2 linked regions of the Homo sapiens genome follow. The protein of the gene in region 2 purifies or fractionates together with the protein of the main gene of each other region. This does not show direct contact. Each region holds a gene or a part of one and is shown on either strand. Other genes may lie near its edges. The genes, in order: FAF2 and LDAF1.

Evidence for each region.
Region 1: the proteins of LDAF1 (region 2) and FAF2 purify together in Homo sapiens (affinity purification with mass spectrometry; 3 studies listed by BioGRID and IntAct, with this or other methods). This does not show direct contact.

What each region holds. Positions count from the first base shown.
Region 1 is NC_000005.10:176,451,385-176,458,384, forward strand, and holds part of FAF2 (FAS-associated factor 2), read left to right. Parts: intron 1-930; exon of another isoform or gene 931-1,844; intron 1,845-1,933; exon of another isoform or gene 1,934-3,613; intron 3,614-7,000. UniProt on the Homo sapiens protein: Plays an important role in endoplasmic reticulum-associated degradation (ERAD) that mediates ubiquitin-dependent degradation of misfolded endoplasmic reticulum proteins.
Region 2 is NC_000016.10:21,175,505-21,181,343, reverse strand, and holds the end of LDAF1 (lipid droplet assembly factor 1), read right to left. Parts: intron 4,208-5,839; coding exon of another isoform or gene 4,186-4,207; exon of another isoform or gene 4,183-4,185; coding exon of another isoform or gene 4,110-4,182; exon of another isoform or gene 2,548-4,109; coding exon of another isoform or gene 2,532-2,547; exon of another isoform or gene 2,412-2,531; intron 1,870-2,411; coding exon 1,788-1,869; 3' UTR 728-1,787; downstream 1-727. UniProt on the Homo sapiens protein: Plays an important role in the formation of lipid droplets (LD) which are storage organelles at the center of lipid and energy homeostasis. In association with BSCL2/seipin, defines the sites of LD formation in the endoplasmic reticulum.

The sequences.
Region 1 (7,000 bases), on a different chromosome or scaffold from region 2:
TTTTTAAGTAGAGACGGGAGTCTTGCTATGTTGTCCAGGCTGCTCTCAAACTGCTGCCTCAGAGGTTGAGATTACAGTGTTGAGATGAGTTGCCTCAGTGTTGAGATTACAGATGTGAGCCACCACACCTGGCCCCTTAACTCTTTTAAACCTTTTAATATAACAGTGTAAAGGGTTAATCTTGTTCATTTTAATAATGAAGAAACAGGTTCTGAGAGGTCAAATAGCTTTCACAAGTAGTAAGTGGTAGAGATTTAGAAATTTATATCCACAACCATCTTCTGTGTAACTTAATGGAGAAGTCAAGTACACACATGAATAATGGGTATGCGATATATATAGATATATATATATGTGTATATATGTATATTGTATATATACATATATATACGTGTGTGTGTGTATATATATATACATATATATATACACACATATATATATATACATATATATATATACACACATATATATACACATATATATATACACACATATATATATATATATATTTTTTTTTTTTTTTTTTTTTTTTTTTTTGAGACAACATATCTCTGTTGCCCAGGCTGAAGTGCAGTGGCGTGATCATAGTTCATTGCAACCTCAAACTCCTGGGCTCAAGTGATCCTCCCACCTCAGCCTCCTAAGTGGCTAGGACTAGAAGTGCCTGGCTAATTTTTGTCTGTTTGTTTTTGAGACGGAGGCTTGCTCTGTTGCCCTGGCTGGGGTGCAGTGGTGCGATCTCGGCTCACTGCAGCCTCTGCCTCCCAGGTTTAAGCTATTCTCTTGCCTCAGCCTCCTGAGTAGCTGGGATTACAAGTGCCTGCCACCATGCCTGGCTAATTTTTGTATTTTTAGTACAGACAAGGTTTCCCCGTGTTGGCCAGGCTGGTCTCGAACTCCTGACCTCAGGTGATCCACCTGCCTCGGCCTCCCAAAGTGCTCGGATTACAGGCGTGAGCCACCGGACCTGGCCAGCAGGTAACATTTATTAAGTATCTACTATGCCTTAGGCATGGTGTTAATGTATAACTATTATGTTTAATCCTTACAGCAGTTTACAAAGTACCATAGGTGGTATGCATAATGAAGCAGATCTATTGATGTATTTACTCAAGGTGATTAAGCTACTAGGTAGTGGAATTCTAGTGGGTCTAGATCTGGACTTGATGGCTGAGTTCTTACTAATATACCTTGCTACTTTGGAAGAGGAATAGAGTTTCAACATGTGTTGGGCAGAATATTCAAAGCTAAAGAAATAGCTTGCACAAGGTAGGGAGATGGGAAAGTGAAGTGTCTGTGGTGATGAACTGAAGAGTATTGAAAGTGGACAATAAGACTAGAAAGGTAAATTAAAGCCAGATTTTGGAGGCCTTTCAAAGCTGTTCACAATGTTTAAACTTTAATCTGTAGATGAGGGGAGCCATCAAAGGATTTTTCAACTAGGGAGTGACACTAGGTTTCAGGTTTGCTTCATTAGCAGTATGGAGTATGTGTTTGGAATCTCCACAGGGGTCAGTACAGAACAGGATGACACTGCTAGGAGTTGGTTCTCAATATGTTTCTTCATTTGGTATATTGAAATCAGTAAAAGTAAAATATTTTGGAAATCTCAGGTTTCCTGTATTTCAATTTTTTTATGATGTTATTTGGTTAGAACTCCCCAAGGCATTTTATTTCATATCATGTTTCTCAGCCCATTTGATATCTTCCAGGATTTTTCTACAGTTCTCCACTTCTGTTTATTTTGGAACCAGTTGAATATGAATAACTATTGCAGACAATTGTTTTCAGCTATTTCAGATGGGAAAGAATAAGGACATAGGTTTTAAGGAGAGCTAATGCAGGTATGTGGAAGGTTACTTTTATTGGCGTTCATTTTCCCAAATTTCCAAATATAGCAGACTCTCCTAGTGTCTTGGTTTACTGCCTCTAGGTTGCTGTTTGAACAACTGGAGAAGGATGACATGGACAGAGAGAAGGGGGAATTAAAGGAGTTATGCAGGCCAGCAGAGGAAGAAATGATCCCTTTTCTGCTTGCACAGGAGGAAGAAATTTATGACCCTCATCCTTTTAAATGATAGCCTGAACGCTGGGCTGTAGAATCAAATTTATAAGTCATTTTGAAAATCTTTCTTTTGGCTTCACCTGACTATATTACCTAAAGGAAAAAAAAACACATGGTGCTTTTTGTTCATGTATTTAAAACAGAACATACAGTGGTCCATTTGAGGGTTTTTTGCCAGAGAATTTGGCACTGTTGAGAAAACAAGAGCTTTGAAAATCCAGGCAAACATGACTTAACTTTTCAACAGCTTATGGTGAGTTCTGTGATCTTGAACAGGTTCTCACTTCTTTGAACCTCTTTCATTTTCTATAAAATGGAGATACTGGCCGGGCGCAGTGGCTCACACCTGTAATCCAAGCACTTTGGGAGGCCGAGGCTGGCAGATCACGAGGTCAGGAGTTCAAGACCAGCCTAGACAACATGGTGAAACCCCGTCTCTACTAAAAATACAAAAAAATTAGCTGGGCGTCGTGTCAGGTGCCCATAATCCCAGCTACTCGGAAGGCTAAGGCAGGAGAATTGCTTGAACCCAGGAGGCGAAGGTTGCAGTGATCCGAGACCGCACCACTGCACTCCAGCCTGGGCAAGAGCGAGACTCTAAAAAAAAAAAAATTGGAGATACTATTATCTAGTTCACAACATTCTTTTTATTTTTTACTTTAAAAAATCTAGTAGGCTGGGTGCCATAATCTCAGCACTTTGGGAGGCCGAGGCAGGCAGATCACTTGAGGCCAGGAGTTCGAGACCAGCCTGACAAACATGGTGAAACCCCGTATCTACTGAAAATATAAAAATTAGCCAGACATAGTGGCATGCACCTGTAATCCCAGCTACTCGGGAGGGTAAGGCAGGAGAATCACTTGAATTCTGGAGGCGGAGGTTGCAGTGAGCCGAGATCGTGCCACTGCACTCCAAGCCTGGGCAACAGAGTGCGACTCCGTCTCAAAATAAATAAATAAAAATAAAAATACAAAAAAAGTTAGCCCAGTGTGGTGGCACAGGCCTGTAATCCCAGCTACTCAGGAGGCTGAGGCATGGGAATCACTTGAACTCAGGAGGTGGAGGTACCAGTGAGCCAAGATCGTGCCACTGCACTCTAACCTGGGCAACAGAGCCAGATTCTGTCTGAAAAAAAAAAAAAAAAAAAAAAAAAAAAAAAAAATCTAATAATACATGCTTGTTGGAAGTTAGCAACATACAATTGTATTTTAAAAAGTAATCAAATCTTATTTTATTTCCCCATTCTAATTCCAGGTTTGTTGTTTATCTTTGTGTATTTTTGTCTTCTGCATACACAGCTTAATGTGGAAGCTCTCTTAACCTTAACCTTCACTTGACTGATTAATTGGAGCAGATATCCTCCTTTTCCTAAACTCTATTCTGTAATATGTTCAAGCATTTCTGCAAACTCTACTCTGTAATGCACTCAAGTGTCTCACCAGTCAAGTTGTATTCCTGACAAGAGGCAGTTATATTTGCTCCCAAACTAGTGTGTGCTGGTTATGTTTGTCACATGTGTTTAATTAAACACTACATAAACCTGTAAAATACCAGTGCAAAAAGAGTTTTCATCGATACGAAAACTAAATTAAAAGCTTTAAACAGGCTCTGTCTGGGGAAATTGCTAAAAAAAAAAATTGTTGTTTAGTTAGGTGTGGGCAAGTTAACTGTAAATGACTTAGGGAGAAATCATTGAGATACAACATTGTACACTTACTGCTTGGCAAGTGTTTAAGGTTGCACTACACTTAAGGAAATCAAATCAGTATGGGTTATGCTAAAAAGATCCCAGCCTGGGCAACATGGTGAAACCTCATCTCTACTAAAACTACAACAAAAAAATTAGCTGGTCGTAGTGGCGCATGCCTGTGGGCCTGTGATCCCAGCTACTTGGGAGACTGAGGTGGGAGCATCACCTTAGCCTAGGAGGTGAAGGCTGCAGTGGGCTGTGATTGCACCACTGCACTCCAGCCTGGGTGACAGAGTGAGACCCTGTCTCAAAAAAAAAAGTAAAAAATAGCCAGGCACAGTGGTGCACGCCTGTAATCCCAGCACTTTGGGAGGCTGAGGTGGGCAGATCACCTGAGGCCAGGAGTTTGAGACCAGCCTGGCCAACATGGTGAAACCCCATCTCTACTAAAATACAAAAATTAGCCAGATTTGGTGGCGGGTGCCTGTAATCCTAGCTACTCAGGAGGCTGAGGCAGGAGAATTGCTTGAACCTGGGAGGCAGAGGTTGCAGTGAGCCAAGGTCGCACTAGTGCACTCCAGCCTGGGTGACAGAGTGAGACTCCCTCTCAAAAAACTAAAAATAAAAACTAAAGAAGTTCCAAGGAGTGCTAGTGGATTCATTCCCTAAAGAAAACGATAGGCTTTTATCAGAAACTTATGTTCATGTGAGTACTTTATGTTAAAATGAAATATTTACATAAATATTCATTTATGTAAAAATGAAAACATGTAAAATGTTAAAATGAATATTTTTATTACTTTGACTTCAGTTAATTGATTAGTTATGGGTCTCATTCTCATTGGGTAAGAGAACTTCTGTCTTTGTCTTATAGAGATATGATTATATTATACTTAACTCTGCATAGCATAGGTAAGTAGTCATGAAGACTGACTGGGTTTGTTTGATTGAGACAGAGTTTTGCTCTTGTTGCCCAGGCTGCAGTGCAGTGGTGTGATCTCAGCTCACTGCAACCTCCACCTCCTGGGTTCAAGCAATTCTCCTGCCTCAGCCTCCCGAGTAGCTGGGATTACAGGTGTGTGCCACCACACCCGGCTAATTTTTGTATTTTTAGTAGAGATGGGGTTTTGCCATGCTGGCCAGGCTGGTCTTGAATTCCTGACCTGAGGTGATCCGCCTACCTCGGCCTCTCAAAGTGCTGGGATTACAGGCGTGAGCCACCGTGCCCGGCCCAAAATATATTTTTAAAACTTAAAATGAACAACTCAATCAAAAGGTAGGGAAAAGATCAGAACAGACAACTCACCAAAAAAGATATACAGATGGCATGTAAGCATATGAAAAGATGCTCAAATCTTTAAGGATTTGAGGTCCTTAAGGAATTGCAAATTAAAACAGCAATGAAACAGGAACTCTCCTGAGCTCAAGCAGTCCACCCCTTGGCCTCCCAAAGTGCTGGAATTACGGGTGTGAGCCACTGCACCCAGCCTCAACTGGAATTTCTGTTCCACTGGTCTTCCCCTATATATGCCAATATAACACTTAATTATAGAGGCTTATGATATATTTTGATCTGGAGGAACACCCCTGCCTCCACTCTGTTGCTCTTTTTCAGAGTTTTCCTGTTTATTTGCTCCTCTAAAAGAAATTTGAAATCAACTTTTTAAAGTTGAAATTTTATGAAATTTGTAAATGAACTTCAGGGGTTGTAGTTGACATCTTTATGTTGCTGAATCTGTTCAAGAACATAGTTATATCTTGGAAAGGTTTTGACATACTTACTCAGTAGTGTTTGCTGGCCTCCCTTTTTTGGGGTACTTCTTTATTTGACAAGTACAGACACTTATTATCAAGTTGGTTCAAAATGCGTTATTTTTTCAGAGTGGGCTGGGCATCGATATTTATGAACTCCTCTAAGTATTTAAGAGGAATATTTCTGAACCTTGCAAAGTAGTATACATTCTGATTACTCTGAGTAACAGATTACCTTTACAGCAGATAGTCTTTTAGAAGTAGGTCTTTGAGATGGGTATTGATAAAGATTAGTATTTTTTGTTTTGTTTTTTTGAGACGGAGTTTCGCTGTTGTCCCCAGGCTGGAGTGCAATGGCTCAACCTTGGCTCACTACAACCTTTGTCTCCCAGGTTCAAGTGATTCTTCTGCCTCAGCTTCCAGAGTTGCTGGGATTATAGGCGCCCACCACCACTTCTGGCTTATTTTTTTGTATTTTTAGTAGAGACAAGGTTTCACCATGTTGGGCAGGCTGGTCTCGAACTCTTGACCTCAGGTGATCCACCTGCCACAGCCTCCCAAAGTGCTGTGATTACAGGCGTGAGCCACTGTGCCCGGCCATAAACGTTAATTTTGTCATTTTTATTTTGGACCATCTGAGGATTATTTCACATATTCAAGGATTCTAGTTGTCGTTTCTCCAACATTGTATTTTTGCTTAAAATTAGTATCAAAAATGAAATAGTCATAAAACTGATTATTTGATTTGAACTGTTTTCAGGGGTGTGTGTGTGTGTGTGTGTGTTTAATACTACTGTTAGTGAGAGTGCCAGAAGTGATGAATAGCAGAAATCACCGTGAACACTTGGGGGGCCTGTGTGTGGGCCTTGGACTTTTCCACCAAGGAAATTATGAAAACTTTCTCACAGTCCTGGAATAAATTTGAAAGAGAACAATTTTTCATACTAAATACTGGGGAATATTTTTAAATGTGTGTTTGTAAATTCTTATTGGAGTTAAAGTCACAAAAAGTCACAGTCCTTAGTTAACCCTCTTGTCATATGCATTGCCACTGCCTCAGTTTATACTTCATTTCTCCTCTGGACTAAACTTGTATAACTGGTAGCCCACATTTAAAGTCTTCTCAATTCAGCCTTCCTACTTTTTCCAGAATAATATTTCTATTCTCTTTCTCTTCTCTTTTCACTCCTCTTCTCCCTTCTCTTCTCTTCCTTGACAGAGTATCTGTCGCCCAGGCTGGAGTGCAATTGTACAGTCTTGGCTCACTGCAGCCTCCGCCTGCTGGACTCAAGCCATCTTTCCAGCTCCCCTTCTTGCGTAGCTGGGACCACAGGCACGTGCCACCACGCCCAGCTAATTTTTGTATTTTTAGTAGAGATGGGGTTTCGCCATGTTGGCCAGGCTGGTATTGAACTCCTGGCCTTAAGTGATCCACCTGCCTTGGCCTTACAAAGTACTGGGATTACAGGCATGAGCCACCACGTCTGGCCTCA
Region 2 (5,839 bases):
ACTTCAGAAGGGAGACCATTGCATTCTTCATTATTAAAGCTGCAGAACCCAGCTGGGTAGATAGCATAGAGAGATAATATCAGACAGTTGTATGAATGAAGGAAACATCCAATAAACAGTAACTGTTAATATTAATAGTTATATTAATAGTGGGCTGATCTATCGCCTCCCCTGTTTCTTGAATGGCCACCATCCCAGCCCTGTCCCATCTGCATATCCCATCCTCCTAGCCACCATGATTGGTCTGGGGTCGCTCACATGACCCAAGTCTATCCAATCAGAGCCAAACCCAGAATATTTGTATATACTGTTGGAAAAAAGCAGTTTTCTTGCCCAGGATGGAGCTCCTGGGACCTCCGAAAGGGGTGGCGGGCCTGCCTGCAAAAGCAGCTCACACTGAGGAAAGCTATACTGAGAGATGAGGGGTGAGAGATGCTTAATGACACCACCTGAGCCCCTGGAATCAGCAGCACCTCAAGATCTACCCCTTGGCTTTTTGGTTGAGTGAAACTAATCCTTCTCCCTACCACCCCTCTTTTTAAAGTAATGTGGAATTGGGTGTCTATTGCGAGCAACTAAAAAAATCCCTATTACCCAGCACCAGTCATGAAATCGACAGAGGAATAGGCAGGTCTGATGTATGGAGCAGAAGGGAAAAAGAGTAAAGAAAAAAAGCCCACCCAAATAAATATTTAATGAAATGCCACGCAAATAAACCACTCAGTAATTCCACTGGGAAATCCCATAGGAAGTTTTATTTTTACTTACTAGTCCTTTAGCATTTTTATTTTAAGAAATGGCTTAGGCTGGGCACAGTGGCTCACGCCTGTAATCCCAGCACTTTGGGAGGCCAAGGCAGGTGGAGCACCTGAGGTCAGGAGTTTGAGACTAGCCTGACCAACATGGTGAAACCCCATCTGTACTAAAAAAAATACAAAAAAAAACTAGCCGGGCACGGTGGCGGGTGCCTGTAATCCCAGCTACTTGGGAGGCTGAGGCACGAGACTCACTTGAACCTGGGAGTTGGAGGTTGCAGTGAGCCGAGACTGCACCATTGCACTCCAGCCTGGGCAACAAGAGGGAAACTCCGTCACAAAAAAAAAAAAAAAAAAAAAAGAAAGAAATTACTTAAAGGACAAGCTCTTTAGAACAATACAACAGTACCAAGTGCAAATATGTAAAAGATTAACAGTACTTAACAGTACTCAACAGTTACAGTGGAAACTACACCTTTAGACTTTTTTGAAAATACTCTTGGCCACAAAGTTACATTTGGACTCTATTTTCCAACTTGGAGAGGCCAAATGTTGCTGTTCTTTCTGATAAAAAGCAAATACCACAGAAGGGCTTGTTCTGTTTTGGATTTTTTTTTTCATTTTGTTTCACATGAGTGAAAAAATTAACAGCTGCCCTCATTTCTGAAAACAAAAAACTATAAACAATCACTGTTGCTCCCAATGGGACCGTTGGACATAAGCCCTGAGGCTTTGGGGTCAACGGGCTAGACTCTAGAAGCCCAGGACCCCGCCAAGGTCAAGTCTGCATACTTGGGGCAGGGCGAGCTGTTGAACCATCGCATTTCTCTGCTGCTTCTTTACATGGGAACCAACACAAGAACAACACAATCCCTAAATTGGCTGCTGCGGGATCCTACAAGTAAGTGAAAAAGCGAGAGGACACAGCCAAGGAGTGCTTGCCTACCCAGCCCCCTTCTTCTAAGCCATAATCCCAAGGGGTGAGTATGATCCAGCAGTACTTGAAAAGAAGCCCGGCCTCTGAGCAGTCACTCATTCCTGGTAAAGCCCCTCGAATTCTGCAGACTTCATGGCTGGCAGAAAGTCACAACTGGTGTTTTGCTGTGTCAGTGGCCTGTCGGATAACAAGAAGAGATCGTTAGCTCTAGGGCCTCAGTAAAGAGCAACGTTGGAAGTGTGCATAGCTGAATACATGATGTTCTTTTTCCTGATTTTTAGCTGCTTCTTGCAACCACACCAGGCCTATGTCCATTATACAGATGAAGAAACTGAGGGCACAGGAGGTTAAAATGACCAGGTTAGGAGTAGGGTTACGGCCCCTTTTCCATTTTCTAATTTGGATATTTATTATGTTTTTCTTAATTATCTGTGTCCTCACAACAACCCAGTGAGAATGGTAGATTAAGAGTAGCCATTTTGTCTATTTTACCAATGGACAAAAACTGAAATCAGAGAAGTCAAGCAGCCCGTTCAAGACCACACAGCTGAAAACATGGCAGGGCGGGGATTCAGACCATATCTTCTGATTTCAATTAGTTTCTTGACACCTTCCATGGAAAGGAGTTCGGGGGAGGATTGTATTAGTCCGTTCTTATGTTGCTAATAAAGACCTGAGACTGGGTAATTTATAAAGAAAAAGAGGTTTCATGGACTCACAATTCCACATGGCTGGGGAGGCCTCACAATCATGGTGGAAGGCAAAGGAAGATCAGAGGCACTTCTTACATGGCGGCAGGCAAGAGAGCATGTGCAGGGGAAATGCCCTTTATAAAACCATCAGATCTCGTGAGACCTACAATCAGGAGAACAGCAACCAGCGGCCATCTGACAAAGTTCTAGTCAATGAAGTCTTTTGAAGTATAGTGGTGAGAGGTCCTGGGAAATATTTTATTCACATTTTTAAAAGGGTCAGACTCCATTTTTTTCTCCTTTTCTGCTGCCTTGAAGGTAGCTGGTAGATCTGGAGCTGCAGCAGCTATCTTGTGGCCATAAGGTAGGAAACCAATGGGCTAAGGATAGCAACACAGGAAGGCAAAAGGTGCCTGGTATGTTGATACCACACTGGCTGCACCAGCCCTGGGCTGTCTCCAGTTTTTCATTAAGCAATAAAAAAAAGTTCCCTGTGTGTTTAAACTAGTATCTACTTTGGTTTTTTTCATTATTTGCCACCTAAACCATTCCTCCCTGATAACAAAAAACTAAGAAAGAAGCCTTTCCTTTTCTTAGTAAAGATGTAAGGAAGCTAGTTATGCTCAGGCTGGTTTGGAAGATTATGATATGGGGTAGTGAGTTTGGTGGCTCTGCAAATAAACACAGCTGCCCAGGGCCCCTACTTCTCCTGAGCTGCAGGCCCTGGAAGGTCTTGCAGTCTCCATAACCAAGCAGTGTGGTTTTGCCCCTCAGAGGCTAGCTGATCTACATAGGAGGCAGGTCAGTGTATTTGATCTAAATATTGTTTAGTTGGGTTTCATATGTAAGGGAAACTTACAGTTTTGTTTCCTTTTTCTTTTCTTTTTTAAAAATTTAAGCTGTATTATCTTTTATGTTTTAGGGCCAAAATTCCATTAAATCATGAAATAAATTATATAGCTCCTCTTCCCCCCATTCCATGCTTTCGATCATTTAATGAGGGAGTTATCTTTTTTTGAGTTATAAAGAATTCACTAATGCAGGCTGGGTACAGTGGCTTACACCTATAATCCCAGCATCTTGGGAGGCTGAGGTGGGTGGATCACTTGAGCTCAGGAGTTCAAGACCAGCCTGGCCAACATGGTGAAACCCCACCTCTACTAAAAACACAAAAATTAGCCATGCATGGTGGTGCACACCTATAATCCCAGCTACTCGGGAGGCTGAGACAGAAGAACTGCTTGAACCCAGAAGGGAGAGGTTGTGTGAACCAAGATCAAGCCACTGCACTCCAGCCTGGGTGAGAGTGAGACTCGTCTCAAAAAAAAAAAAAAAAAAAAGAATTCGCTAATGCAAGGGTTCTCAGATGAAAACCATGTTCACAATAACATGACCTATTATATGCCTTTTTCACTCACATTCTCTCACAAGGGAACAGTGCAATTTTTCAAAATATATTTGGAAGATCTGCATGACTCAATGAATTGATATTCTCCCATTGACCAATGGGTAAAGTTAGAAAATCATGCATGATAAAGATCAATTTAAAGTGTGACACAGACCTGAAGATTTCAATAAAATAGAGTAGAAAAATTTCACATTTCAGCTAACCTTTAAGAAACTATCACTTACGGAGTTTTGGTGGACTATCATAGAATATCCACAATCGTTTAAAAAAGCTTTGCCTCCCTCTCCCAACCGCATGTTAGTGATGCTAGGTCTTCTTCAAATACTCCAAACAGGACAACATAGCACAACAGAATGAATGCAGCCACACAAACGAGAAGCCGGCTGACAACTGTTAAGGCAGATATGAAAGAGATCTGTAAAATGTAAAATAATACCACTCACAAATTTCATTTTGTTTTGGAAAATATAGTTACTTTTCATTAAAATTTGTTATTTATATCAACAGGTAATATTGTTCCTTTTAAATGAATAGATATTTTTAAAATTTATGCTATGATTTCTCATAGAATAATTATTTCAGAACAAGAAACAATGAGGAAGAAAATTTTTTAAAAAGAAATAATTATTAATATTCTTTTTTTTTTTTTTTCCAGACAGAGTCTAGCTCTGTCACCCAGGCTGGAGTGCAGTGGTACAATCATAGCTCACTGCACCCCCAACCTCCCAGGCTCAGGCCATCCTCCCTCCTCAGCCTCTTGAGTAGCTGGGACCACAAGCATGCACCAGCTAATATTTAATTTGATTTAATGTAATTTATGTTATGTTTATTTTAATTTATTTTATTGTATATAGTTTTATGTCATGTTAGTTATTTATTTTATATTTCAGCTCATTTCATTTGTTTTTTGAGACAGGGTCTTGCTCTGTTGCCCAGGCTGGAGTGCAATGGTGTGATCACAGCTCACTGCAGCCTTGAACTCCTGGGCCCAAATGATCCTCCCATCTCAGCCTCCTGAGTAGCTGGGACTACAGGCACGCACCACCACAGTTGGCTAATTTTTGTATTTTTTGTAGAGATGTGGTCTTGCCATGTTGCCTAGGTTGGTCTTAAACCCCTGGCCTCAAGTGATCTTCCCTCCTTGGCCTCCCAAAGTGCTATTAATACAATTAACCACATAAATAACATCTCTTCAGATGCCTCAATAATTTTTAAGAAGGTAAAATGGGACTTGAGAACAAAAAGCTTAAGAACCTCTGCCCACGTGGAAACAATTGGTTGGCAGCAATAGGGGAAGATAAGGAGATCAAGTACAAATCCTGGATTTGTTTTTCAATTTCTTCATTGATAAGTAGGGAGTCAGATTCTGCTACTTCCTGTGGTATAATCTTTAAGAACTCACCCTGTTACAGCAGCGTTCAGAGGCAGGGAGGAATTTTATTTCAGAAGCATCACCCTCAATATGCAAAATAGGCCAATATTTCTCCTTTTACATCTTTTAAGACTGGGAGTGAGTTAGTGCCTTACGCCTATAATTCCAGTTCATTGAGAGGCCAACGGGGGAGGATTGCTTGAAGCCAGGAGTTTGAGAATGGCCTGGGCAACACAGCAAGACCCCATTTTATAAGTAAAATACAAATGAACAAACAAAAGACTAAGAGTGATCAAAGCGATTTTTGAAAAGGTGATTATGACTCCAGGGTTGATTCAATTAAGCAATCCTATAAGAGCCATCCTTGAGCAATTTTATATTATACCCACTTCACCCTTTATTTTTCAACATAGGAATAATAACAGGATAAACTTTTGGTAAGGAGTTCAAGGGCTGTTTTGTAGAAAAACAAAACTCAGGATATCAGTTCTTATAGAGCAATGGTTGGCCAAATCCAGCAAGCTGCCTGTCTTTGTAAATAAAGTTTTACTGGAACACAGCCATGCCCATGCATTTACTTCCTGGTCTGTGCTGCCTTCATGCTACGGCAACAGAGTTGACTAACTGCAGTAGAGACTATATTATTTACTAAATACTTACTATCTGGCCCTTTCC